Linked DNA regions of Homo sapiens: region 2 is linked to region 1. The links come from fine-mapping of genetic effects on gene expression. A gene starts in region 1. The other region holds a variant in brackets. All regions are shown on one strand. Distances are from middle to middle. Region 1 holds the start of OAZ2 (ornithine decarboxylase antizyme 2). Region 2 overlaps CSNK1G1 (casein kinase 1 gamma 1).

Region 1 (12,154 bases):
ATTCTTGTCTCAGGCCCTGCCTCATAGAACACCCAAAGGTGCCCTCACTTCCCTCATACAGGTAGCTTTTACTCTGAGACTAGGAATGTCTTTGATGACTAATCCCTACGCAAAAAGATGTGCCATCACTTAGCAAAATAGAAAGTAAGAAAGGTGAGAGGGTGATGACCACCTCCAGTCTAGTGTGGCTGTAGAGGCTGATTTCCAGCTACCGATGCCCCTTCCATCTGAGAAAGGGCCCCTGGGCAGATGCCAGGCAAAAGTCATTTCACTAGGGCTATTCTGCGTTCCACAGGGACTCTTCTTGCTAAGCACAATTATAAAGAAAATGACATCACCACTCTGAATCACAGGCTGAAAGCAAAATTGGGTTTTGGTTGATTCTCCACAAGAAACACAGTTATAGTGATAGCTAGAATATCTGTGCCTTTGGGGTTTGCTTATCACACAGCTGATATTGGTACATATGCCAAAGGAACGCACAATCACATATGCTACCAGAGGTGAGTGGATAGCTAGGTAATCAAGCTTTAATATAAGACTTTACTTTTACATATTAAGTACCTCAATCTAGTTTGCAGAGTAAGGTCATCACACAGTGCCAGCCTCTTCCCAGGACAGAATTACATCATTGTTTATATAGTATCAAAGGACTAAGAAATTTTCTTAAGGTTTATCTTATACAAAGCATTTTACACTACTGCTGCTAACCGGACACTACCTGTTTTGTTCACTTTAAGTGACAAAATTCTTGCCTGCCTACTTGTCCCTTTCTTGTCTATAACTTTTTTTTTTTTTTTTAAGAGATGGGGCATCTCACTATGTTGCCCAGGCTGGTCTTGAACTCCTGGGCTCAAGCAATCGTCTCAGCCTCCCAAAGTGCTGGGATTACAGGTGTGAGCCACCATGCCTGGCCTGGTCTGTAACTTTGGCTTCATAACCTTCTAAATCATGGCACCAACTTGAATCAACACTGCATACTCTTTCAAAAAGGGATGAATTACTCATTTTGTTTTTCTAGAAATGCACATTTGTAACATCCCTCTATCCCACTCCTCAGTCCCCTTTTTTATATTTTTGAGCAGCTCTGAGGCTAAATTTGGATTTCTTGGCAGAGTGAGGAATTGCTATTATTAGCCCACACTGCTTTCTGAAGCATAGCTCTGATTTTGGGGGATTCCTGACTATACTAGGAGAGTCTGTGTCTGTCTCTCTCTCTCTCCTCTTTGACTCTCTCCTCTCTCTCTCCCCTCTCTCCTCTCCCCCAACCCTCCTACCATAGAGTGACCTTGAAGGCACATCATTGGAAAACTGGCTCTCCCTACCACCCCATGCCCAACAAGCCATATTGTCAATAAATAAGGAATAACTGAAACCAGACCCTTTAGGAAGAGACAGAAATTCCATTACCCAGGAAACCACTCAGTGAAGATGCTGATAGTTCTGATATGTTCTTATGCCCTGCCCCCTTCCCCCAAAAAACCACCTGCAGAACCAAATGTTTCTCCTCAAAGCCCATCAGCACAGATTGATAATAATATCACTATCAAGCCAGGGCTAGTGCTTCTCTACATACTGTACTGTCACAGGTACAAAGCAAGCCCTGGACAGATACTGTCTCCCTGCCCCCACAAATCCAGGGAGAAAAAGACCAGGAAGCTTGATTTCCTTGGATTTAAACCTCATGTTCAAAAAGGATAATAAAGGTGCTCGTACTTGTATCTTCTTCCCTCCCCCACCATCAGGAATTCTGACATTTTGGAAGTACCAATCAGAATAACACTGGAAAGGAAGAGCCTTGTTTTCAAAACATAGTGCCAGCTCCTCTGCAACTATTTCTTCCAGGAAACCAAGCCTCCACCTCCTGAGTTTTTCACTGGAGCCAGGGAAGCTGAAAATCCCATCCCCCACCCAATGGGAGCTAAATTCCCAGCCAGCTCCCCACTCTATGGATATGAAACACTCGAGAACACTGACTGGGAAGAACATCCGGCTCTTATCAGAATCCCTAGTTAGGACTCTACCAGGATTCCTTTTAGAAAGTTAGGGGCAGGCCCAAGGAATCTAGGAAACACGCTATGGAAATGGGATTGCCATCACTCAAAGAAACCAGACACCCTGCACACAACACCCCACCCCCAGGCCAAGTGGAGGAGCCTGATCCAAGGCCTAGCTCCTACCCAGGCCCTGGCAGGCCAGTTGGCTCCTCTCTCCACCTGCCTCTCATACAGCCAGGCCCCTCAAATTACCAACACGCTAAGCAAGGGCCCTGGAGACAAGCAAGCCTGTTTTGCCACTTAGGAAGCTGGAAAGAATTTTCGAGTCAAGTTAACCCAACCCCCTCTTCTTTTCACATGTAAGCACACTGGCTCAGCCAGAACTCAGGTCTTTCAACCTCACAGTTGGTGAAGACTCTTACATGTTGGTTCCAAGTTGCTCAACTCTCAGGGCTCAGCCTACAAAAGACTCGGCATTTCGACCAGCTCAGTCCAGAGGACTCCAGAGAATGACTGCTGAGACCACCCCACTTTCCAACCCCCACTACAGACACACAAAAAGAACAGAAAAAAAAGTCTATCTCACATACCCCTTGAGTGGGTTTTGTTGTAGGTCTCTCTGCTCCCCTCCACCCCTGTGCTTCATCCTGCCCTCTCTCATACCTGCCATCTATCCTCAGCACACACGGCGCCTTTGCCACAAGTAACACCTTTGCATCCAGCACTCTCCGTGTCTATATCCGCCTCCACCTCCTCAGCTCCCGAGGGGCTGGGTTACAGAAGATGGAGTGAAAGGGGGGAATGCAGAGGGGATGGACATGGAGAGTCTTGGAAAAGGAAACTCTAACAGCTGATGGGTTGTAGGGTAAAGAGAACATGGGAGGCAGGGATAACAGGTCAAATAAGACCATAACAAATTATCAAACGGCGAGTGAATTTTCTTCCTGCATGCAAAGAAGAAATGAGGGGGAGGGCACCAGTTAAGAGTCTGAGACTTGGGGGAAGAAAATGGCCAATGGCTGAGAACTGAGTACAGACAGGAACTTCAGAAGCTGTTGCAGGTATTGTATCTTGGGCACTTCTGGACAGCACCTGAGAGAGAAAGACTAAGAAATCCCTGAAGAAATTGAGCCCAGGAGGCAGAGGTTGCAGTGAGCCCAGATCGCACCACTGCACTCCAGCCTGCGCCACAGAGTGAGACCCTGTCTCAAAAAAAAAAAAAAAAAAAAATATTCCTCGAAGAAAATTAGGCCTTTGTCAGTAGAAAAGGGCTGACACCCACTACAGGAATAGGATGGGAAAAGCTGCAGGAAGGAAGCTGTGGTTTTTAACCCCAGCTTTGCATTATAAAGAATTACCTGGGGAGCTTTAAAACTATATGCTAATAATCAGGACACTCTAGGCCAATGAGACCAATCTTTGAAGGTAAGGCCCAAGTGACTGATTTCTCAAATGTGAAGCCAGGGTAAGAAACACTGAAATACAAGAAAAGCTGAAAACCCAGTTGGAATATTTAAGGCTGGTGCTGTTAACAAGTGGGAAAGGAAAGTTGAGAGACTATTTCAGTAAGAAGAGTGCCCAAGTTTGAGAGGAATCCTGAGTGGCAGTTAGAGGGCTCTATGCAAAGAAAAGCAATAAAGAAGGCAATGCATTTGAGAGGAACTAGTCTAATTCTGAATAGAACATGGCCCAATTTAAGGAAGATTTACAGGGAATGGATCTGCTTGCAAAATAATGAGGCCCAAGTGAGAGGCAGAGGCCATAAGGCCAAATCTGGGGACAAAAGGTCTGGTGTGGGGAACTAATGAGCTTCAGACACGGTTTGGACAGGACAGCAACAAGTTTGGGGAAAAAATGAGGAAGAGAATTAGGTCCAAATTGTAAATGAAAGCCATTCTGATGTATAAGGAGCAACTAGGATTAAAAATTCCGGGGAATTAGGAAATTGTGGAACAGTTTCAGAGAACAGAGGCAGAAATATGGGATATATTAAAATTTGAGGGAGAGATAGGTGAGAAGGGTTGTCTTGGAGAAAGAGAGGCATGTAGAGAAAGGAAAATTGAGGAACTATCTGCAGGGGGAAGGATATACCATGCAAGTTTGGAAAACCAGGGTGCTCGGTCTGAGAAAGATGTGCAGCCTTTCTCTAATTAATGGGGGAAGACTAGGGTCGGGTTTTGAGGGAGGAAATTGCAAAGATCTAGTGTCCAGAATATAGAGCTTGGTTTGAAGGCACTGGAGGTACAGGGGGAAGGTTCACTGGAAGCGAGATGGCTGGGTCCTGTGATCTAATGATCCAAAGACGGGATTCAGTTAAGAGGGGAAGGAGAAGGATGAGTTCCAGCTGAGAAAAGATGTTTAGAGGGTAAGAATGTTTCCAAGAGTGTTGGGGGTATACCATTGGGGCAACAGGATGGAGCACAAGAATCAAACCTGGTGTTTGATAAATAAAAGGAATGGCGCTGGGAGACTGGGAAAATGGGGCCTAACTGGGAGAGGGGTGTGGAGAGGGGAAGGTGGGGGAAAGATGAAGCTGAAGTATGGGACCAGGAGGAAGAGGCTGGACATCTGTGTAAGGACTGCTAGGCCTGAAGAGAATGGGGGGAGGGTGATGAGTGGGGGTAAACTGAGAACTGAAGGATGGAGGTTGACTTTGCGGGGGGCAGTGATATGAGAAGAGTCTGGGTGGGGGGTGCAGTTTTCATCAGGGAGGGAATTCAAAGGGAAGGGTGAAGTGACTTATAAGGGGAGTAAGAAAGATTTGAGGAAGACAGGAAACAATTTGGGGAATCTGGATGCCGGGGAAAGCCCAGTTTGGGGAATGGGGCACAATTCGGTGGGGCTGAAAGAAAAAAGGGGACTTGCTTGGAAGGTTGGGTTCCGGCTTTTGGGGGCTTTAGGGGAGGAGAAGGCCCGGATGAGGGGGATGGGCCCGGCTGAAGAGGGGGCTAAAGGACAGAAGAAGGCCCAGTTGCAGGGCTGAGGACCGGACTAGGGTGGCTGAAGTGGTGAACGGACCTGGCTGGGGGCGGATGGCCCCGCTGCGGGGGGCGGGGGCCGGCTAGGGGTACGTGAGAGGCCCTCTGGAGCAGATGAGGGAGGATGGGGGCGGGGAGCCTGGGCCGGGCCGTTACCTGTCCTGGGTGTTTATCATCCTCGGCGGCTCTGCTCAGGGTGGGAGGAGGCGGCGCAGGGAGTGGATAGATGGATGAGTGGGTGGGTGTGGGGTCACGCGCGCGGGGTCGATCTCTGCGGGCTAAGTCCCTGTCAGGCCGCGGGCCGAGCGCCTCCTTTTGCCTCAGCGAGCGCCTGCCTCCAACTGACCCTCCCCGGCCGCCACCGCCGCCGCCGCCGCCGCCGCCCCGCCCCCGAGTGCCTCATCTGCATAGCCCCACCCCAGCGCCGCGCGGTGTCCTGGGAAACTGGGGCCCACAACAAAGGGCAAAGCACCGCCCCGCCTCCGCGCAGGCGCACCACGGACCGATCGTGGGGGTAGGGCTAGGGGGTCCGAACGAAGGGCAGGCTGTGCAGGAGGCCATGACCAAGGCGGTGGGTCTGCCCGCAGCTGCGGCAGCGCGGCCCAGAAGATGCGTTGTGTTTCCGGTAGTTTTCTGTGAGGATTGACTCAACCTGGTCCTCATCCCTATTCCTTGTTGGCGTGGGGCCGAACAGGGCTGTGCCATTTGGGAGGATATTAAAACAAAATCAGAAATCTTAAGAGAACTACACACATATTAGCACCATTCCTAGTCTGAGTCCAGGCCCACAGATCTGTTATCTCAGCTCATAATGCAGATCAATAACCTCAGCTGTCAGGGTAGATCAACAATCTCAGCATCTCGCACACATCTCATGTCAATCGTCAAGGCTGCTCCAAGCACTGGCTTAGGTCATCTGAAGCCAGAACTCTGTAGATCATGAGCACAGTCACAACAAGACAGTCGTGGAAAGCGTCGTCACTAACTTGTTCACGGTCACTTCAGATCACAATCAGTGCAAGTTACTTCAATCGATCATGCAAGGTTACTAGTTCAGTCACCTCCATTCATTATCCCTACTGGTCCTTATGACAGATTAGTGCCTGAAGGCCACAGTCACCGGTGCGCAGACCCCTCAGATCACAGTCCTTGTAGGTTACAATCACAGACACTTCAACACAATCATCAAAAGCCCCGACTCTGTTCACAGTCAACCCAGATTGCAATCAAGAGAGGTCACATTATCTCAGATCACAGTGGGTCACTCTGTCACCTCAGATTACATCCATTCAGTTATTCAACAAATAATTATTTTATTTATTTACTTATTTTTGAGATGGAGTCTCTCTCTGTGGCCCAGGCTGGAGTGCAGTGGCACAATCTCAGCTCACTGCAACCTCCACCTCCCGGGTTCAAGCGATTCTCCTGCCTCAGCCTCCTGAGTAGCTGGGATTACAGACATGTACCACCATGCCCGGCTAATTTTTGTATTTTTAGTAGAGACGAGGTTTCACCATGTTGCCCAAGCTGGTCTTGAACTCCTGACTTCAGGTGATCCACCTGCCTCGGCCTCCAAAAGTACTGGGATTACAGGCATGAGCCACCGCACCCGGCCAACAAATAATTATTGAATAGCTACTTACTGTATGCTCCAGGCATGTGCTAGAGTCCAAGAATACGCCATAATCAACCAGGCAAGGTTCCTGCCTTGGATGTCACAATCCGGTCAAGGGGAGAGACACAGGTCATCACAATACCAGGTAAGTAAGTGCTCAATCTGAGGAATGCCACAGAGAAAGTAATTTAGGGAATTAGGGACAGCTTTGCAGAAAGAGTGATAACTCAGAGAAAGGGTGACACTCCAGATCGGCGGTCACTATGACTTTCAGTTCACAAACATCTCACATTGGAGTCATCTCAGGATATGGTTACTCTCCTTCACAAACAGCATGCTTTTGGGTTTTGGATGATGGGGATGGAGGCACAGAAGGAAGGCTGGAGCTACCAAGCTAAGGCTTTTTCAACACAAATTAAAGTGGTAAATGATACCGAAACTGCCCGGATTATCACTAGATATTCAGGCAAGGCTGGTCTCATACTCTGGTTCACTTTAAGATCCTCCACTTTGTCCCTCAGCTATCCCTACCTACTCCTCCAGGTTCAAGTCAGGTATGTTCTTACATTAGTACTTAGCAAAATTGGACATTTAAACCCAGCCCTGATCTACCCCATCGCATAGTCCCAGAGACCTGGGCAATCCTCCTGGACCCTCAGAGGGAGCTGGAATGTCTCACTTCTGCCAGCCCATTCCTGGCCAAGTAACCCTTTAACCTGAAGGACAGTTTTTGACCCATGAATCAACAAATATTGAGAACTCACTATGTCAATAATAGCGACCATTTATTGAGCATCATGGGTAAAGTACTAAATTTTAGAACAGCTCTCCACCCTCGTTTTAAGGATGAAGAGAATTAAACCTCAGAGAGATTTATTCTGTCATCCAATATTTATTGAGGGTCTGTCTATACCAGACATGTTAACATGCTAGCTTTAATTCAAAGCGATTAAGTGGTATAGTTAGAATTTGGATCCCAAGTTGCCTGATCCTGTGCTTTCTCTGGATCTGCATGGTGGAAGAGTCAGAAGCTCTCTGGACAGCTTTCTGTTTAAAGGAGTGGCCACCCTGATAGCCACCTGGTCAGCAAGTGAAAAATTCACAAAAACTGAGGTCTTCAAATCTAAATTAATTAACATGAAATAAAGTTAAAAGTTCAATTCCTCAGTCCCACTAGCCACATTTCTTTTTCTTTTGTTTGAAACCGAGTCTCATTCTGTCACCTAAGCTGGAGTGCAGTGGGATGATCTCAGCTCACTGCAACCTCTGCCTCCCAGGTTCAAGCAATTCTTCTGTCTCAGCCTCCCGAGTAGCTGGGATTACAGGCGCCCACCACCACACCCGGCTAATTTTTATAGTTTAAGTAGAGACGGGGTTTCACCATGTTGGCCAGGCCAGTCTCGAACTCCTGACCTCAAGTGATCCACCTGCCTCGGCCTCCCAAAGTGCTGGGAATTACAGGCATGAGCCACCGCGCCCGGCCCACTAGCCACATTTCATATGCTTAATAGCCATATGTGGCTAGCAGCCACAGTATTACACAGTATACATATGGAACATGTCTATCATCACAGAAACTTCTACAACAGCACTATATCCCATCACCCCTCTATCCCTGTCTACCCCAGTCACCACCACAGGTTCAAGTCCCTTCTCATCCATTGCCCTCACACTGGCAATCTATCAGACTCTGCTTCCTGCTCCTAACCATACCCTCCCACTGTGCCTTCTGCAACGTGTGATCAGCAAACTCTTCCACATCCTCAGCCTTTTCTCAGCATCCTTGCTTTATCTGAAACTTGGCTATCCACTAACCGCTGCTTCTCCAGCAGCTCTATTAGGTGAATTCTGTTTCTCATTCTCACGTGCCTCAGTGTCAGAAGTGGGTAAGTGTATTCCTCTCCATCCCAATGCCATTTCTAGACCAGTGTTTATCTTCCCCTCCCTCCCACAAAATCCCTGTTCCATTGGGGCTTCACCCTCTAGATATACTATCTTGGTTAATGTCATTAGCCAGCCTCCTGGTTGATGCCCCTTATTTGGCTCATGGCTTGCTGCCTCTCCGCCCCAAATTTTGTCATATTTGGTGAGCTCAAGGTCCACATGATGGCCTCTCAGCCACGCTCCTCTCACTTCCTCGACTTTCTCATCTCCGGTAAGATTTTCAGCACTCCACTGTAGCTGCTAACACACCCTCAACTTTGTTTTCACCAAAAATCATTTCACGTCCAAAATATTGACTCTCCAACCATAACCTTTGCCTTAATTAAACCTTTCAACAAGTCTTTGACCTGTATCAGGAGCTTAACGCTTGACCTCACTAATTCCTCACTATTCATTAGCCCTAAGTTTTTTGTTTGTTTTTTTTAAGAGGAAGAAACTTGTTAAGAGAGATGAGAAAGTAACCTGTCTATGACTGAGCGTGGCAACTCATTCCTATAATCTCAACACTTTGAGAGGCCGAAGTGGGAGGATCACTTGAGCCCAGGAGTTTAAGATTAGCTGTGGGTAATGAGGAGACCCTATAAAAATTTTAAAAAAAAGCCAGCGTGGGGACACACACCTGTGGTTCCAACTACTCGGGAGGCTGCAGTAGGAGGATCGCTTGAGCCTGGGAGGTCAAGGCTGCAGTGAGCTGTGACTGCACCACTGCATTCCAGCCTGGGTGACAGACTAAGACCCTGCCTCAACTTAAAAAACAAAAGAGGCCGGGCGTTGTGGCTCACGCCTGTAATCCCAGCACTTTGGGAGGCCGAGGCGGGCGGATCATGAGGTCAGGAGATCGAGGCCATCCTGGCTAACATGGTGAAACCCCGTCTCTACTAAAAATACAAAAAATTAGCCGGGCGTGGTGGAGGGCACCTGTAGTCCCAGCTACTCGGGAGGCTGAGGCAGGAGAATGGCGTGAACCTGGGAGGCGGAACTTGCAGTGAGCTGAGATCACACCACTGCACTCCAACCTGGGCAACAGAGTGAGACTCCGTCTCAGAAAAAAAGAAAAAAGAAAACGAAAGGAACCTATCTAATGTGTCAAAGCTTTAGTGCAAATACTTGGGTCCAAACTCAGTAGTCACTGTTACCAATTGCAGATTTTTACATAGGACTGAATTATATGGTAAGCCACAGAAATTTGGAATAACTGAAACTCTCCTATTTGAGTCCACTGCCAGCTAATGATACTGTTTTTTTCTGTTTCCCTTGGCAAAGAGAGATAGTAGTTTATTAGAAAAGTAGTCGAGAACCATAAGTGTGAAATTATGTTAAAATAGTTCCCACAAAAATCATTATTTCTTTATGCATATTTTTAAAATTTTAACAAAGATTGTATACATTTATGGTGTACATCACGTTTTCATATATGTATACATTGTAGAAGAGTTAATCAATGATTAAATTTTTTTTTTTTTTTTTTTTTTTTTGAGACGGAGTCTCGCTCTGTCACCCAGGCCAGAGTGCAGTGGCACGATCTTGGCTCACTGCAACTTCCACCTCCCAGGTTCAAGCGATTCTCCTGCCTTAGCCTCCTGAATAGCTGGGATTACAGGCTTGCGCCACCAAGCCTGGCTAATTTTTGTATTTTTAGTAGAGACGGGGTTTTGCCATGTTGGCCAGGCTGGTCTCGAACTCCTGACCTCAAGTGATCCGCACACCTCAGTCTCCCAAAGTGCTGGGATTACAGGCATGAGCCACTGCACCCGGCCAAATCAAGCTTTTTAACATATTTATTATCTTACATCCTTATCATTTTTTTGCAAATATACACTATGTTGTTAACTCTAGCCATCATGATGTAACATAGATCTCTTGAACTTACTCCTCTTGTCTAACTGAAAATTTGTGTCCTTTGACTAACACTTTTCCAATTCCTCTACCTGCCCCCGGCCTCTGGTGACCATCATTTTACTCTCTATTTCTATGAGTTTGACTTTTTGTTTTGTTTATTTGACACAGGGTCTCATTCTTTTGCCTAGGCTGGAGTGCAGTGGAACCAGCATAGCTCACTGGAGCCTCAAATTCCTGGCCTGAAAGGATCCTCCTGCCTCAGCCTACCGAGTAGCTAGGACCACAGGCACATGCCACCATGCCTAGCTAATTGTTTTTTACTCTTTTCTCCAGAGACAGGGTTTCCCTGTGTTGCCCAGGCTGGTCTCAAACTCCTGGTCTCAAGGGATCCTCCTGTCTCAGCCTCCCAAAGCAATGAATGGGATTACAGGTCTGAGCCACCATTCTTGGTCTAAGCTTGATTTTTTTCACACTCTACATGTAAGTGAAATCATGCAGTATTTCTTGTTTTGTGCCTGGTTTATTTCACATAACATAACATCTCCCAGGTTCATCCATGTTGTCGCAAATGATACAGTTTCCTTCTTTTTTTAAGGCTGAATAGTACCCCGTTGTCTATATGTACATTTTTCTTTATTCATTCGTGTGTTGTTGGGCACTGTGGTTGTTTCCATGTGTTGGCTGTTGTGAATAATGCTGCAATGAACATGGGAATACAAATCTCTTTGACATGCTAATTTCAGGTCCTTTGGATATATACCCAGTAGTGGGATTCCTGGATCATAAAGTAGTTCTATTCTTAATGTTTTTTATTTTTTATTTTGAGATGGAGTCTCACTCTCTCACCCAGGCTGGAGTGCAGCGGAGCGATCTCAGCTCACTGCAACCTCCGCCTCCCAGGTTCAAGCGATTCTCCTATCTCAGCCTCCGGAGTAGCTGAGATTACAGGCACACGCCACCACGCCCAGCTAATTTTTTGTATTTTTAGTAGAGACAGGGTTTCACCATGTTGGCCAAGCTGGTCTCAAACTCCTGACCTTGTGATTTGCCTGCCTTGGCCTCCCAAAGTGCTGGGATTATAGGCATGAGCCTCCATGCCCAGACTATTCTTAATGTTTTGAGGAACCGCCATACTGTTTTCCATAAAGGCTATACTAATTCACATTCCCACCAACAGGGTGCAAGGGTTCCCTTTTCTCTGCATCCAGACCAACACTTGTCTTTTGTCTTGTTTTTTCTTTGAGATGGAGTTTCACTCTGTTGTCCAGGCTGGAGTGCAGTGACGTGATTGCAGCTCACTGCAAGCTCCACCTCCTGGGCTCAAGTGATTCTCCTGCTTCAGCCTCCCAAGTAGCTGGGATTACAGGCACCCACCACCACACCCATCTAGTTTTTGTATTTTTAGTAGAGACAGGGTTTCTCCATGTTGGCCAGGCTGGTCTTGAACTCCTGACCTCAAGTGATCCACCCACCTCAGCCTCCCAAAGTGCTGAGATAACAGGCATGAGCCACCATGCCTGACCATCTTTTATCTTTTTAATAATATAATAGTAGTCCTAATTTTGACTCACATCTCTTCTTTTCTTTTTATTTTTTTTTTATTTTTTTTTTTGAGATGGAGTCTCACTCTGTCACCCAGGCTGGAGTGCAGTGGCGCGATCTCGGCTCACTGCAAGCTCTGCCTCCTGGGTTCATGCCATTCTCCTGCCTCAGCCTCCCGTGTAGCTAGGACTACAGGCGCCCGCCACCATGCCCAGCTAATTTTTTGTATTTTTAGTAGA
Region 2 (12,154 bases), 410 kb before region 1:
GTTGGACTTGAGGAAAAAAAATTAATGAAAGGTATATTGATAACTAAGAATTTTTTTTAAAAATCAAGTATCAGCAATTTTTAATTCTGAGGGAAGGAATGATGGAGTCATACTAAAAAGGAAATACAGTAACAGTGCTCTCATAGATTGGTTGTAAACAATACTTCCACAGCCATAAAGCTGTAAATGTAAAAAAATTATTGAACCAAAAAATATGACATAAGTATATTGGGAGAATATGGGCAAGGTATGTACGTCATTAGGGATGGCATCTGTGAGACAATCAATAACAACATCTAATATTGAAAAAATTAAGAAATAATATTTAGAAATAAGGAGGTATCTAGACGACATGGATAAAATAATTGAACCACTTGCCTATAGGATTCAGAACTTTAGAATCTATGTAACCTAGTTATTGGAATTAAAGATAAATTATAAAAAATATTACATGATACTTTATAAAGTTATATATATATATGTGTGTATGTGTGTGTGTGTTTGTGTGCATGTGTATATATATATATTTCCTCTTGTCCTAGTAACCCCAACATAGAAAAAAAAAATTGAATCAATCCAGCATCACCTGCTCTTTGAAAGCCCACAACAGCTGGCAGTAAGCTCCACTTTCTTTGACAAAAGCTTTGCCGCCTTCTGGAAAAGTAGGCCATAAGTTCAGACAGTTTTTTCCTTAGGATGCATGATGACATCATGTAAATACTGCTTCTGAATCACCCTCATAAACACATCTTTCTATAAACTTCTGTTGCCCATAACCATCCTACTTTCATAGTCCTCCTCAAAAATTGTGGCCAGACATGGTGGCTCATGCCTGTAATCCCAGGACTTTGGGAAGCCAAGGTGGGCAGATCACCTGATCTCAGGAGTTTGAGACCAGCCTGACCAACATGGCGAAACCCCATCTCCACTAAAAATACAAAAATTAGCCGGCCGTGGTGGTGCACGCCTGTAACCCCAGCCACTCCAGAGGCTGAGGCAAGGCACGAGAATCACTTGAACCCAGGAGATGAAGGCTGCAGCGAGCCGAGATTGCAACACTGCACTCCAGCCTGGGCGAACAAGTGAGACTCTGTATCAAAAAAAAAAAAAAAAAATTCCGGAATTGTTTGGCAAGCCTGGAAATTTTACCATTACATTCTTCTGGTTAACCATTCAAGATGTCAATGCATAATCTTGCAAGTATTGTATCTGTGACACTTCTAAAATTACCATATTAATGCAATGCAGACTGTGTGTCACCTAATGTGGTTAGAACTCTTCATTTCTACTTTATTTTGATGGATTATGCTATTGACAGAAATAATTCTTCTCCAAGATCTGTTAAAACTGCTTAACCTTAACAAATTGTGCTTAAGTTAAACTAGGGTGTAATTCCAAAAGAAATTTAAACTACGATACTACTACAAACAAGAATCTCATATACATTTGATATTCTTCCAAGAAAATTAAAATGCACAACAAAAACAAAATAGACAAATGGGACTTAATTAAACTAAAAAGCATCTGCACAGCAAAAGAAATAAGAGAGTGAACAGACAACCTGCTGAATGGGAGAAAATATTTGCAAACTGCATCTAACAGGAAACTAATATCCAATTACAAGGATATTATAGTATTTACAATACTAATTGTAAGAATTTACAAGGAACTTAAACAAACAATAACAAAAAACCGTATAACCTCATCTAAAAGTGAGCAAAGGACATGAACATTTTTCAAATGAAGACATACAAATGACTTCATTTGAATGACATTTGAATGACATACAAATGACCAAGAAGCATATGAAAAAACGCTCAAAAGAACTAATCAGCAGAGAGATGCAAATTAAAACCACAATAAGATATAATTTTATACCAGTCAGAATGGCTATTATTATTATTTTTTGTTTTGTTGGTTTTTCCAATAAGCCTTTTACACTCCTAAGAATGGCTATTATTAAAAAGTCAAAAAATAAAAGATGTTGGCATGGGTGCAGAGAAGAGAGAACACTTATACACTGTTGGCGGGAATGTAAATGAGTGCACCCTTTATGAAAAACAGTATGGAAGTTTCCCAAAAAACTAAAACCACCATTTGATCCTGCAATCTCACTAATGGGTACCTACCCAAAGGAAAAGAAATCATTACATCAAAAAGACACCTGCATATGTTATGTTTATCGCCAAAAATACGGAAACAAGTGTCCCTCATGGATGATTTTATATATATATATACACATACACATACACACACACATTTTACACACACACACACACACAGGCAGACAGGCAATGAACTACTATTCCGCCCTTAAAAAAATAATAAAATTTCACGTTTTTTGCAGCAACATGGATGGAACTGCAGGCCATTAACTTAAGTGAAACAACTCAGAAACAGAAAATCAAAAAATGCATGCTTTCACTTATAAGTGGGAGCTAAATAATGTGTACACATGGACACAGAGTGTGGAATAATAGACACTGAAGACTTAAAAGGGTGGGAAAGAGGTGAGAAATGAGAAATTATTTAATGGATACAATGCATATTATTCAGGTGATAGTTACACAAAAAAACCCAGACTTCACCATTAGGGAATATATCCACATAACAACAAAAAAATTAGAATGCATTTTATCTAAAGTTATAATTTAATTTAATTTAATTCAATTAATTTATTTTTTTTGAGACAGAGTCTCGTTCTTGTCACCCAGACTAGAGTGCAATGGCACGATCTCAGCTCACCTCAGCCTCCCGAGTAGCTGGGATTACAGGCGCCCACAACCATGCCTGGCTAATTTTTGTATTTTCAGTAGAGACGGGGTTTCACCACGTTGGCCAGGCTGGTCTCCAACTCCTGACCTCAGATGATCTGTCTGCTTTGGCCTCCCAAAGTGCTGAGATTACAGGCGTGAGCCACCATGCCCAGCCAAGACTCCTATTTTTAATCACTTAAGCAGAAGAATGACATGACTTCTAAAACTTGTTTTAGTTTGTTCCATCCACAGAACCTAAAAATTTGTAAATTTATAAGAAAACTTTAACAAGGTTACAAATATATATCAATGTTTCTGGTTAATTAGGTGTTTGGCTGATACACTTTCATTTGTTTAAAATACCATGATTTTCTAAGAAACTATTAACTTAAAAGCAAAAATTTGATTTTAAAATGGCTTCATTTTGAACTAGAGAAGAAATACCTTTAAATTATGTTACATTTTGGTCTGGGTGCAGTGGCTCACGCCTGTAATCCCAGCACTTTGGGAGGCTGAAGCGGGCAGATCACTTGAAGTCAGGAGTTTGAGACCAGCCTGGCCAACATGGTGAAACCCCATCTTTACTAAAAATACAAAAAATTAGCTGGGTGTGGTGGTGGGCACCTGTAATCCCAGCTACTCAGAAGCCTGAGGCAGGAGAATTGCTTGAATCCAGGAGGTGGAGGTTGCGGTGAGCTAAGATCATGCCATTGCACTCCAGCCTGGGCAACAAGAGTGAAACTCCATCTCAAAAATAAAATAAAATAAAATTATGTTTCATCTTAAGCCTGCATTCTCTCAGATGATTTTCAAAAATGTTTAAAGCAGCAGAATCATACCTTTCAAACAAAATCTTATTGAAAACTCAAATGTATAAAATGTATAAAACAGATAACATGGAGAGTTCTGCCTGCTCACTTTTCTTTTCTCATTGACTTGGAGTGGAAAATAATGGATCTAAGACTGTGGGATATAATATGAAATGAACTGCTTTAGATAGTATTCATCTGTAAATTGTTAATAATTACAACTGCCAAAAAAAGAAAAGCTAGTAGCAGAAGTTAAAAGTTCCAATAAAAGCAGGGCGCAGTGGCTCACGCCTGTAATCCCAGCACTTTGGGAGGCCGAGGCAGGTGGATCACAAGGTCAGGAGATCGAGGCCATCCTGGCTAACATGGTGAAACCTCGTCTCTACTAAAAATACACATATTAAAAAAAAAAATTAGTCAGGCGTGGTGGCAGGCGCCTGTAGTCCCAGCTAGTCGGGAGGCTTAGGCAGGAGAATGGTGTGAACCTGGGAGGCGGAGCTTGCAGTCAGCCAAGATCGAGCCACTGCACTCCAGCCTGGGCGACAGAGCGAGACTCCGTCACAAAAAAAAAAAAAAAAAGTTCCAATTTAAGTTCACAAGTGACAGTTCAGTAATTCAGACAAGGAAAGAACAATATGCAGAGCCTGTCATATAAATCCTACATCAATCACAGAAATAAGTGTCTTACTTTAGAAGCCATGCAGGAGTGTCACAGAACAAGCTGCTACCCTTAGCCAATTTATTTACCTTTGTCAGAAGTATCCTGTGTTAATGCATTTTTGCATATTTCATCAGACACCAAAGATGGAAAAGATCAAAAAGGTTAATTTGTTGTGCCTCCATTTTGTTGTATGCAAGTAAAAACATCCTCTCACTCTATCCTACTTCAAAAGGATAATATGAATATTATTAAAATCATACGCCTGTCTCTCTAGTCTAACAGGTCTCCCATAAACATACGTGCACCCCTATGTGGATGTGAAAGAAATATCACCAGCCAGGTGCAGTGGCCCATGCCTGTAATCCTAGCACTTTGGGAGGCCGAGGTGGCTGGATCACTAGCTTAGGAGATAGAGACCATCCTGGCCAACTTGGTGAAACCTGTCTCTATTAAAAAAATACAAAAAATAATTAGCCGGGCATGGTGGCGGGCACCTGTAATCCCAGCTACTCAGGAGGCTGAGGCAGGAGAACTGCTTGAACCTGGGAGGCAGAGGTTGCAGTGAGCCAATATCGCGCCACTGCACTCCAGCCTGGTGATAGAGCGAGACTCCATCTCATAAATAAATAAATAAATAAATATCATCTATCTACTTATTCTTGCAACTAAGAAAAACATCAGCAATTATTTGTACATTGAGGATGTATATTTTCTTAACTCTAGAGGAAAATAATTTTATTTTAATGTTTACATGATTCTTTCCAGGCCTGATTCAGCAGAAGGCTCAAAACTTTAAAAATGAGAAAGTTCTCACAAGATTCCCCATGATTTTCAGTTAGTATCAATCTATAAAATCTGTTTTCATCCCATCATGTCCTCCTACCTACACAATCACTATCCATCAATTTTCCCTTCTGTCTTAAATCTTCATAATTCTCCTTTCATTGAGGCAGTACACAAAAGACTCCACAGAAATAATCTTTCCATTGAAAATGAGCAAAGGCCACATAGAAATACTCTTTAAAAAAATAAGCAAATATGTGTAAGTATGTTTAACTTCACCTATGAACACATACACATTTAAGTAATACCATTTTCCCCTATCAGACTGTCATAGATGAAAAGATTCTTGATATTGTTTAAGATTTCTGAAGCACTGGAGGAAATAAGCACAAGGACACACATACACACAAAGTGAAACATCTTTTTGGAGGGCAAACTGACAATGTGTAA[C/T]AAAATTGCAAACGTACATATCCTTTGACACAAAAAGTACGCTTCCAGGATGTAGTCTAAGAAATTAAACCAACTTTAAATACAAGGAGATCGAGTAGACCAGTGCCAGTCCGTGGCCCTGTTAGGAACCAGGCTGCATGGCAGGAGGTGAGCAGTGGGTAAGCAAGCATTACCACCTGAGTGCCACCTGAAAGATCAGTGGCAGCATTAGATTCTCACAGGAGTGCAAACCCTATTACTGTGCATGTGAGGGATCTAGCCTACATCTAATACTTGATGATCTAGGGTGGAACAGTTTCATCCTGAAACCATCCTCCACCCCTGGTACATGGAAAAATTGTCTTCCATGAAATGGGTCCCTGGTGCCAAAAAAGTTGGGGACTGCAGGAGTACTGTATTAATTATAGTATTAAAATACAAAATAATTTTTGTGTATATTGATAATGGCTAAATTGAATACTATAGAAATATTTAAAATTGATGAGATATATTTAAGTTGAAACAAGATGTTCATGCTCTATTAAGCAATAAAAAGAGGCTTCTTTTTTTGAGACGGAGTCTCACTCTGTCTCCCAGGCTGGAGTGCAGTGGTGCAGTCTCAGCTCACTGCAACCTCCATCTCCCAGGTTCAACTGGTTCTCCTGTCTCAGCCTTCCGAGTAGCTGGGATTACAGGCGTCCGTCACCAAGCCCGGCTAATTCTTTGTATTTTTAGTAGAGATGGGGTTTCACCATGTTGGCCAGGCTGGTCTCAAACTCCTGATCTCAGGTGATCCGCCCACCTCGGCCTCTCAAAGGGCTGGGATTACAGGCATGAGGCACCACGCCCAGCCATAAGAGGAAGCTTAGAGCACAATTTGATTGCATTTCTAAAATATGTCCTAATACACATTTTTGAGCTGTAGAAAATTAAACCATCATTACTGGTTATCTCCACAGACACCTCTAAAGTAGAATTAAAAAAAAATTTTAAGCAATAAGTGTATTTTCTTTTTAAAAAAATTTGCTTTAATGAAATTGTTTTGCTTTGATTACTACTTTTTGCTGATTACAAAATACACATGGCTCATTTTAAAAAGATAGGGAAGGGCCAGGAGTGGTGGCTCATACCTGTAATCCCAGCACTTTGGGAGGCCAAGGCAGGCAGATCACCTGAGGTCAGGAGTTCAAGACCAGCCTGGCCAACATGGTGAAACCCCGTCTCTACAAAAAATACAAAAAATTAGCTGGGCGTTGTGGCAGGTGCCTGTAATCCCAGCTACTTGGGAGACTGAGGCAGGAGAATCGCTTGAACTCAGGAGGCGGAGGTTGCAGTGAGCCAAGATCGTGCCATTGCACTCCAGCCTGGACAACAAGAGTGAAACTTCGTCTCAAAAAAAAAAAAAAAAAAAAAAAGAGGGTCGGGGGGTGGCCAGGCGCGGTGGCTCATGCCTATAATCCCAGCACTTTGGGAGGCCGAGGTGGGTAGATCACAAGGTCAGGAGATCAAGACCATCCTGGCTAACATGGTGAAACCCCATCTCTAGTTTGGTGTGATTTCTTAATCCCTATCTCAAGCCTAACTTTCTAAGTCTCAGATATGCATTTCTGCATATGTGTCACCCAGTCCTCAAATATTCACAAACTCTATCTTACCTGCCTTCCCAACCACTCTCCCTAGTCCTATATTTACTATCTCAATTAACTCATTTATGCCTAGTGTTCCATTATTGGAACGCTAGGCTGGTGGGAGTTATTTATATACACTGCTCGAGGTCATCACCAAGGTCTGATTTTTCACAAAAAAATTTGCAGCTTCCGGCATAAATGGGTTTACATCTTCCTCATTTATAAGGTCTCTTCAAGCTGGCACATTTAGTCATCTTTGACTTCTTCCCATCAAATAATTAGTGACTAAATCCTGCCTAAAGTCTATGTCTAAAATTTCTAATTTACCCTGTCCTCTCTCCATCTCACTTCCATTTTCAGAGCTAAGACCAAAGGCCCTGCTACTTCTGACCTGGACAATTCAGCCTTTCTTGAGTACCCATTACATACCACACACAGTGAAAGGAATTAGAATATGAGGACTAAAAAGCAAAGTAATACCCTTACACCTATCTTGGGAGAGAGAAATGGAAGAATAAAGTACAACATGATAAGTATTACAATTAGAGCAAAATCTACAAGATGTCAACTTCTTTCCTATTTGATCTAATCTTACAATACAACCCGAATTCTCTTTCTGGAATATAAACTAGATTATGTCACTCTGTTGTAAAACTCCTGATGATTCGACCCCATTGCCTACAGGATAAAGTCCAAATGCTTTAATATATGCAAACACTTCACAATTTCGTCCCAACTTACCTAAAAGCTTCATTCTATTACTTTTCTTTCACTTCACATCCTATGACCCAGTCATGTATAACTAAATGCTGCTGTGATATGCTGGGCACTTGCACAGTATCTAGTGATTGTGTATCCTGCACAAGCTCTTCTTCCTTATGTCTACCAGCAGAAATCCTGTCCTATCATCAAATCATACCTCCTCTTTGAAGCCTTTATTAACCTTCTCTGCCAATGTAGTTTCCATACAATCTGGTTTTTTGTTTGTTTGAGACACGGTCTCACTCTGTCGCCCAGGCTGGAGTGCAGTGATGTGATCTTGGCTCATGGTAGCATCAGGCTCCCAGGCTCAAGCCATCCTCCCATCTCAGCCTCCCAAGTAGCTAGGACTACAGGTGCATACCACCACACCCAGCTAATTTTTGTATTTTTTGTAGAGACGAGGTTTTGCCACGTTGCTCATGTTGGTATTGAAATCCTAAGCTCAAGTCATCTGCCTGCCTTGGCCTCCCAAAGTGCTGGGATTACAGGCATAAGCCACTACACCCAGCCCCCAATCTGCTATATTATCACTTTGTATTGCAATTTGTTTTTCTCTGTCTACCACTAGACTGTGGTATTTGTAGAGACAAAAACTATATCTTCTTATTTCTATCCTTCCCAGAGTCTAGTATCAGTAAATATTCAAGAAATAGTTGTTAAATGTATGATGAAGGCTGGGTGCAGTGGCTCACGCCTGTAATCCTAGCACTTTGGGAGGCTGACGTGGGCAGATCACCTGAGGTCAGGAGTTCGAGACCAGCCTGGCCAACATGGTGAAACCCTGCCTCAACTAAAAATAAAAAATTAGCCGGGCATGGAGGCACACGCCTGTAATCCCAGCTACTTGGGAGGCTGAGACAGGAGAATCACTTGAACCCGGGAGGCAGAGGTTGCAGTGAGCCGAGATTGTGCCACTGCACTCTAGCCTGGGCAAAAAGAGCAAAACTCCATCTAAAAGAAAAAAAAAAAAGAAAACTGTATAATGGGGTGGAAACATTTGCAGAGAACCAAAATGCACTATCGTTACTTTTTTTTTTTTTTTTTTTTTTTTGCTGTTTGGAACCGATAGGTCTACTATCTACCACCACCCCCACATAAACCTGGAGCCCAAAGAAAGTATGCTTTATTTTCCCCCCTCTTCCTATTCATCAGCTTTTTATCCTTCCATCTCATAAATAACAGTAAACAATACAGAAAGAATCCCTGCCCTTTAAAGGGCTTATATTCAAGTAAGGAGAGGCAATTAATAGGGAAACATACATATGGTCATTTCAGATAGTGATGAATGCAATGAATAAAATAAAGCAGTTTGACGAGACAGGATGTGCTAGAGAAGAAACGTGCTATTTTAAATGAGAATGAGGAACAAGTGATAGAATGTTTCTCTGAGAAGGTAAGACATAAGCTGAGGCCTAAAGGATGAGAAACAACCCACTACGCAAAATTTTAGGGAAATAATTCTGCAAGCAGAAGGAATTGCAAGTGTAAAGGCTCTGAAGCAGAAATGCACACGGTTGGTCAGGTGTGGCGGCTCACATCTGTAATCCCAACACTTTGGAAGGCCAAGGCAGGAGAATCGCTTGAGGCCAGGAGTTCAAGACCAGCCTGCAAAACATCATCTCTACAAAACATTTAAAAATAAAAAAATTAGCTGGGCGTGTTCTTATGCACTAGCTATTAAGGAGGCTGAAGTAGGAGGATCGCTTGAGCCTGGGAGTTGGAGGCTGCGTGAGCTATGATCATGCCACTGCACTCCAGGGCGGGTAACAGAGCAAGACCCTGTCTCTCAAAAAAAAAAAAAGAATAAGAAGAAATGCACTTGGCTGTTTGACAGACTGTGTGTCTAGGAAAGGAAATTAGTTTAGAGAAGCAGAGCTTTGTAGGTGGTAGCCATGATGTAGGCTGACTGCACCTGCCTTGACTTTGGAATTTTGTAGTTTACAATCTTCTCCTCGCTAATATTAGAACAAGAAAATGACGGAATGGGGTATGCAGCCCACTCTATTGTCAGGAAGATGCCAGATAATTCTGAAAGTATCTTTTCTAGATACAAGGCCATAACAGTATGGTCCCAGGGCTAATGAAAACTTGATAAGCAGAGAAGAGTAAAAGCACATGAAAAGAAAGACAAGTTCTTCTGACTACAGGCAAGTCCAAATGAGAAACATCAAAATTATCTCAGATTCAAAGAGGAAACAAAACACAATACTACTCTGAAAATATATATGGGCTATAAATGTATGCTTTTAACTGAATGAATTTTTCCCTTCCCACGTAAACTTATAATACAAATCTAGACTTCAGTGATTAAACAGATTTCCACTTTTAATTCACCAAGGTTTTTCTTCACTTTCACAGAAATGAAACAATTGTCTGATGTTTTGAGAATTCAAAGATTTAGATGCTTTAGAAACTGCCTCTTAGCAATCATTTTATGGATGTTTATGTCATAATTATTTAATCCATCCAAGTAGTACTGTGATGTTACAGTCAATTTATGACATAAAGAAATATTCACAGAACTATTCGTTAAAGCAACTCTGTGATTGCTAGAAAGTAAAGCAGTAATTACACATCTTACTCGTATTGTAAGTAGCATCTGCTGGCTTTGGTAACCCGAACACAATTCTAAATATAAAGATCCTTTCATTATCCTAATTAAGTCCTGAATTTCCAGGTTGTCAGCCTTCTAACAGTAAAAATAAATCCATTCTCATCATTCTTAAATTCAAATGGTCTCTGGCTAGTATAGTGATGTTTCTCCAAGGCTCTCTATGGGGGATCAGAGATAAGATTTTGTCCATGTTCTCTATGCAGGACCATCACAAGTAGCAGAGGTGGTCAGGCGTAGTGGCTCAGCCTGTAATCCCAGCACTTTGGGAGGCCGAGGCGGGTGGATCACTTGAGGCCAGGAGGTCAAGACCAGCCTGGCCAATATGGCAAGAGCCCGTCTCCACAAAAATACAAAAAAAAAAAAAATAAGCTGGGCATGGTGGCACATGCCTGTAAGTCCCAGCTACTCTGGAGGATGAGGCACAAGAATCACTTGAACCTGGGAAGAGGAGGTTGCAGTGAGCTGAGATCGCACCACTGCACTCCAGCCTGGGTGACAGAGCAACACTCCATCTCAAAAAGAAAAAGAAGTAGCAGAGGTAACAAACATAATTACATTATGTTCCCACCCTCCCACCACTCCCCCCAAAGGGCCAAAGTTTCTTACAATGAGTCTTCACATTAATCCACAGTCTCAAGAGCTATGAAGGAAAAGAAAACACTTTAGCCTAAAAGATGACCTTTCCACATTCTCCAGGCTAATTTCCAACTTCATATATTTATACGGCCTTTTATTTTCTCTATCCCACTCATCAAGGGAGAGCCATTAAAAAGTATATAAATGGCCGGGCGCGGTGGCTCACGCCTGTAATCCCAGCACTTTGGGAGGCCGAGGCGGGCGGATCACGAAGTCAGAGGATCAAGACCATCCTGGCTAACATGGTGAAACCCTGTCTCTACTAAAAATACAAAAACAAAATTAGCCGGGCGTGGTGGCGGATGCCTGTAGTCCCAGCTACTTGGGAGGTTGAGGCAGGAGAATGGCATGAACCCGGGAGGCAGAGCTTGCAGTGAGCCGAGATCGCGCCACTGCACTCCAGCCTGGGCGACAGAGTAAGACTCCATCTCAAAAAAAAAAAAATTTTATATATATATATAAATACCCAATGTACCTTCTTCCCAATCTCACATTTTTAGACAGATTAATTTTGTCATTATTTTCCATCTCACCCATAAATTCATAATTGAAATAGAAAATCCATTGCCTTAGTTGGGAAATAAAATTGCCTAACTTCTCCTTGGAGTTCTAACTTAATTCTAATGCTGGAAACTCCAGGAAGAAACGCAAACAAATTATCTTTTGGAAAATTTCTCCAAACAGGATGTACTGTATATCCTTGCAGACTAAGCCTGGGTATTACTGAGTAAGGATTTACTCTTTTCTTTTCAGGGGCAGAGTCTGAATTAAACCAAGGCCTTATGTCCTTCTTAAAAGACCAACAGCATCTGCATCACCTGGAATTTGTAAAAATATGCAGAATTTGGGGCTCCACCTCAGACATCCTAAATCAGAGTCTGCATTTTACTGATATCTGTATGCAACTCTATGTTCATCAGAAAATCTCAGAACTGGTAGAAAACTTAAAAGCCCATCGCACACACATAAAGAGAGATGAGCCTTGGATAACAAATAATTGATAATGACTATAGTGCCCCTTCACAAATTATTTCTTAACAACAGGTTCTCCTTAAGAAAAATTTCTTGTAAAACTA

Evidence for each region.
Region 2: its variant is fine-mapped to the expression of OAZ2 in whole blood (TOPMed, PIP 0.98).

The regions. Positions count from the first base shown.
Region 1 is chr15:64,697,898-64,710,051 of GRCh38, forward strand. OAZ2 (ornithine decarboxylase antizyme 2) reads right to left here and starts at 5,384. Exons shown (of 5, transcript NM_002537.3): 1 at 5,132-5,384. The coding sequence starts at 5,151. It overlaps LOC124903507 (a long non-coding RNA gene), which reads left to right and starts at 6,646. Exons shown (of 3, transcript XR_007064679.1): 1 at 6,646-6,735. RefSeq lists enhancers at 1,667-2,503, 2,504-3,341 and silencers at 4,970-5,189, 5,200-5,519.
Region 2 is chr15:64,288,083-64,300,236 of GRCh38, forward strand. The region is part of intron 2 of CSNK1G1 (casein kinase 1 gamma 1); the gene reads right to left. Among named protein-coding and RNA genes, the nearest start is that of CSNK1G1, 62 kb to the right of the region's middle. The variant C/T (reference allele first, on the strand shown) is at 5,460.